Regions from separate parts of the Homo sapiens genome. Here region 1 is linked to region 2. A link means that fine-mapping ties the variant in region 2 to the expression of a gene that starts in the linked region. Tissue or cell type: testis. Region 2 holds a variant in brackets; the other region holds the start of a gene. All regions are shown on one strand. Distances are from middle to middle.

Region 1 (2,696 bases), 26 kb before region 2:
TTATCTCCTAGTAATCTTTGTAGGCTATTTTAATAATGGTTATTTTATGCAATCAAAAGAAATGATTTCTAATCATCCTGAGCAAAATGGAATTATTAGGAGGATTTGGCATTATCTGCATATTTGATAGTACATTTAGAGAAGCAGCCTCATAAAATGAGCAGAACCATTAGAAGCCAGACAGCACGAAAAACAGTCAAGATTATGCTTGTCTGGTAAAAACAAATGCTTGTTGACACTGGGTCTTCCCTGAATCATTGCTGCTGAAATCTAACATTATTTTACTATTGTGATAGTCCCTTAACTGTCTGTTTGTCATTGTATATCTCCCTTAAGATGCTAAATTAGGCTTTATGCTTTTGAATTTTTCTTTGTAGTCTGGATATTTTAAAACTTTAATTCATAAGTGTGTCCATTGATTTGGTTTATAAAAGTTCGAACATAATTTTACAATCTTTAACTTTTTTTCCCTCAACATTATGTTTTTAACCATACATATTCATGTACAAAATATTATTTAACAATTTTAATTATTGAATGTATTTCATCACACTAAAATATTATATTTCCCCACTCTCAAATTTATATATATATATGTACTTAGGTTTTTTCCAGTATCTCTCCTTCAGCCAGTGCTGCAATATGTGCCATTGTGCTCAAATGCTTATATATGTGAATGTTTTACTAAGGTGTACACATGCACACAGGATAGATAGGAAGATAGAAACACTAAGTAATAGGGAATCTTACCTTCAATTTTTTTACTTAAAGATGACCACTTGAAACTTACATCAGAACCTGTGGAGATCTAGAAAACTTATATAAAATATAGTTGAAAAAGACTGTTGATGTATTTTGGGAAAGAAATTTATATAGGGAATAAATGAGAGCCTCTTTAAATATTTGAAGAAACATAATACTGAAGTGCTAATAGATTTACTCTTTAAATTACAAATGGTAGAAACAGTGGAGCACAGACTGAACTGTCTTATGAAGCAGTGGGCTCCTTGTGATTGGAGGAAACACCCTGAGGCGAGGTGATAATTTTTAAGATTGTGTGATTGTTTTATTAACAGAGAGTTAGGAGTTGAATACCTGAATACTTCCTTTGCTGACTGATACTCAGTTAAAATCAAGTAATCTTTTGCTTTCATATGTATACACTAGTTGGCGAACAAACAAACAAACCTTTTTTTCTTTTCCATTTCTGGAAAATTATTTTGTAAAACATAATTACTCCCACTGGAAAGTGACCTCAGATCTCTAAAGGGTGTTTTCTTGCTTCACCAATGAAATCAGTTTTCTAGAATGAGGTTGAAAGGCTTTATATTGTATTGCCTTAAGTTATTGTAATTGCTCGGTTGAGTGCAAGGTGATCAGAGCCCTCACTACATCAGGACAGGACCTGAGGACCTGAGAGGCTTCCTTCCATACGGCATAGTGTAGGGAACCAAGTTAAAATGCATCAAGTTAAGATTATATTACAAATATTTTCAGTATGAAGACTCATAGCAGAAAGTGGGAAATGGAAACAAACCAGAGGACACCAAACTGGGAAAATAAGGAAGAAGTGAAAGACTTGGACAACTTTTTCAAAGTGTAAGTATTATACATTCATTGTGAACATATTGTTGCACTGGAGAAATAATTAATGAGATCTCTTATAGATGCAAAAACAGCAACTAGAAGATAGCAAAGTGGAAGTTATTGCTGTCTCAGACAAATTGAAAACTCCCTCTGGAAGAAGAATATTCCTGTTCTCCACTTCTCTGTCTATATCATTCTTCCACTGCACTGCTTCTGGGCAACCCTGGTAAGAAGAGGATCAGAATCTGATAAACAGAGGAACATATGTTACAACCATTATCTGTCCCTTCTCTGACCCATTTATGCTTTCTGTTCAGTGACTCTGTAGCCATTAGTTTAACAAATGTTTATTGACTACCAAAATTTGCCTCAAATGAAGAAAAGTGTAGCTATACACAGTAGAGTAATGGTCAGTAGTATATCCTTTATTGTTTGCTTCTAGGCTTATAGGTAATCAAGTATTATACATTAAAATAAAAACAAGAAAAAATTATTCATGCTTATGATTTCAGAGTTCCATTGACACATTGTATAGTAGATATTAATGCAACAGCAACCCTTTCATATCCAACTTGGCTTTACACCAAGAATAGGGAAATTTTCTTATGGTGTATTTTGGGATCTGAAAACACTCCTATCTCTGAGGTATAGTGGCAATGACAGAATGAATGATTCAATAATGAAGAAGCTTCTGGGTGCTCTGTGGACTGCTGAAGGAATGCTAACTTTTATAAACTCCATGTGTTTCCATAACTGCCTCTGCACTTAGAATTTTAGAGATGAAACTAGCTTTAGAGATAATCCAGTTCTATCTTTTAAGTTCAGTCACACAGCCAGCAAGTAGCAAATGTTATTTGTCTATACTATTGGGTAACTACCTTAATTATTAAGAAGAAAATGAGATATAATGTTGAACCTGATCTGTTCTACTTGCATTTAAAAAATCATAGGAAGTTAGTTTGGAGAGGAATTTCTAGTTGTTTCCTATATTTTGAAAAATTAAGACTAAAAACCTTATCATTTATTAGATATTGAAAAGATATAATTTGTGGGAAATTTGGATATTTTCAAAAGTATATTTTTCAAAGATAAGATGATTTTTGAAAAAG
Region 2 (2,696 bases):
GCTGCAGACACCTCAAATACATGGCCTCATGCCATTCCTTTATTTGTTGTCATTTATCAAAGTAACTGGACTGATTTCCATATCTTTACACCTGGCCTAAATTGCCTGTCCCTTCAAGATTCTGTAAATGGTGCTAGACTCCTCATTTTCAACTATTAATAATCTGAATGTGTAAGTACAGTATGTATGATTTTCAAAGTTCTATTAAGGTATTGCACATTTCTACAAAAACATTTTAGAATTCAATGGCAAATATTGCTGTCTCTCAATTTCTCTCTTTCTATATAGGTTTATCTGTTAGATAAAAACTCTCTCTCTCTCTGTCTCTCTCTCTCTCTCTCTCTATCCATCTATCTATCTTGCAAAGCATAAAGGCAAAAGTAAATAATAATTCATATAATTATCTAAGTGAGCCCAGGGAAAATATTAATTCCTAACAATCATGTGAATACTCTTTGTCTTATAGCCTCACCATTTTATTTTTATATTAGAATCAAAGCATCTATTTGATTTGCAAAATGGTAAAAAGCTTATTCTTAATCCATCTTAATTATCTTTTCTTCCCTCTAGATAACTTCAGCAGCTCAGATTCAGTTAATGGATGGAGTAATAAATCAGTGGTTACTGAATTCAATTTGTTGGGGCTGTCTAGCTCTTGGGAACTCCAAGTCTTCTTTTTCTTTATCTTCTCTGTGTTTTATGGAGCTGCAGTGTTGGGAAACATCCTTATCATCATCACAGTAATTATAGACTCTCATTTGCATTCCCCAATGTACTTTCTTCTTAGCAATCTCTCTTCCATCGATGTGTGTCAGGCTACATTTGCCACTCCCAAGATGATTGCAGACTTCCTCAACGAACACAAGACCACCACTTTCCAGGGATGCATGTCACAAATCTTTTTCTTGCATGTTTTTGGGGGTAGTGAGATGGTGCTTCTTGTTGCCATGGCCTATGATAGATACATTGCTATATGCAAACCTCTGCACTACATGACCATCATGAACCGGAGGGTGTGAACTGTTCTGGTGGGGGTTTCCTGGGCCATTGGCATCTCACACTCAGCCACCCACCTGGCATTCAAAGTCAATCTGCCTTTCTGTGGACCCAACAGGGTAGACAATTTTTTCTGTGACCTCCTCCTAGTGATCAAGCTTGCCTGCTTAGACACCTATGGTTTTGAGATACTGGTGCTCACTAACAGTGGTCTGCTCTCACTTATGTGTTTCCTCCTTTTGCTCATTTCTGACACTATCATCCTTGCTACTGTGCATCGCCAAGCCTCTGATGGGATGTCCAAGGCCCTTTCCACTCTGTCTGCCCACATTACTGTTGTGCTTCTCTTCTTTGGCCCATTAATATTCATCTATATTTGGCCCTTTGAAAGCTTCCCAATTGATAAATTTATCTCTGTGTTTTTTTACTGTCTTCACTCCTCTCCTTAACCCCATGATTTATACTCTGAGGAATAAAGATATAAAGGAAGCCATGAGGAAGCTAAGGAGATGACATGTGGGTTCCAAGCAGG[GT/G]TTTTAGACAACTACAAAGAAGTAATACAAATTCCTACTTTTGGGCTTTGAAATTAACATATGTGATTATTATTATTGTGTTTGTATCACAAATAGTTTTTTTACTAGACTAAATTAGAGGGCCTGAATATGGTGATCTGGAGTTGGCAAACACAGTGCAGAATCTTATGATGCCAGTTCCTATATTCTGTGTCTCACATCATCCTCCCTAAAGCTGCATCTACAAGTATTAAAACCCATAAGCAGTTTTTCCTCTTAAACAGGCACCATAAAAAATTATCTCTGAGAGGTAGAGGTAAGAGGATCACTCAAGCCCAGGAGGTCGAGGCTGCAGTGAGCCGAGATTGTGCCACTGTACTCCAGCCTGGGCAACACAGTGAGACCCTGTCAAAAAAAAATCTCTTGCAACATTTAAAAATCAGCTCTATATTAAAGAAGATTAGCTAGTTCATGTGATTCACTCTGGGTAACATAGAGAATAATTTAGCATTATTTGAGTTAAAACAGAATTTGCTTTGAAATAAAAGGCGATATGAAGATTCTAAAAAGTGCTGCTTTACCTCATCAGTTACAGTTCATAATTATTCTGGCTAATACCTTATTGTTATAAAGGTAAAATTTTATATTCACAAATAAGGCATTAATGCTTATCAAACATGTCTTTTGTCATACTTATTATTTGTGCTAGAATTTAAATATATAAAATGCTACAGTATCAATTACAGGACTATAAATATAACCAAGTTCATAGTTAAAATTACAAGACTACTCTTACACTCTCTGGAAGAAAGAGCAATTACAAACCTCATTATATCACTAATAATAACCTGTCATCAATTGACAATGACTGCAAGGTATCTGAATAGCCAGTGATTTTCTTTAGTTAATTTCATTTGGGAGTGTAATTTTCAAAGTAGTTGCAGAAAATATATATATTGCTAATTAGAAAATATATCACATGCTTCTCTTCTTCTCAAACTTTAATTGAAACTTCAGAAATTGCTCATCAAACGTTGGAAAGAATAAGAGAAAGAGGGTCATCGCATGATTGATTCAGTCTTTTATCAGCCACAGAATCTGGCACTGTCATCACTGCACCATATAATTCGAGCTTGAAGAGTTTATTCTGTTTATGATAGCTTTCAATTCAAACTTGTAATTTTTGAA

Which allele goes with the higher level. Positions count from the first base shown, and alleles are read on the strand shown. Sizes are in standard deviations (SD) of each study's normalised expression.
In carriers of allele G in region 2, the expression in testis of the gene that starts at base 1,371 in region 1 tends to be higher than with GT alone (moderate effect, 0.52 SD a copy in GTEx).

The links. PIP is the estimated chance that this variant, and not a neighbour inherited with it, causes the effect. A credible set is the group of variants that fine-mapping cannot tell apart.
Region 1: it holds the start of OR4K1, and the variant in region 2 is the best candidate, but not a certain one, in a credible set for the expression of OR4K1 in testis (GTEx, PIP 0.76).

Annotation. Positions count from the first base shown.
Region 1 is chr14:19,929,547-19,932,242 of GRCh38, forward strand. It overlaps OR4K1 (olfactory receptor family 4 subfamily K member 1), which reads left to right and starts at 1,371. Exons shown (of 2, transcript NM_001004063.3): 1 at 1,371-1,599. All of the region lies in intron 2 of LOC124903278 (a long non-coding RNA gene), which reads right to left.
Region 2 is chr14:19,956,004-19,958,699 of GRCh38, forward strand. It overlaps the pseudogene OR4K16P. Among named protein-coding and RNA genes, the nearest start is that of OR4K15, 18 kb to the right of the region's middle. The variant GT/G (reference allele first, on the strand shown) is at 1,529.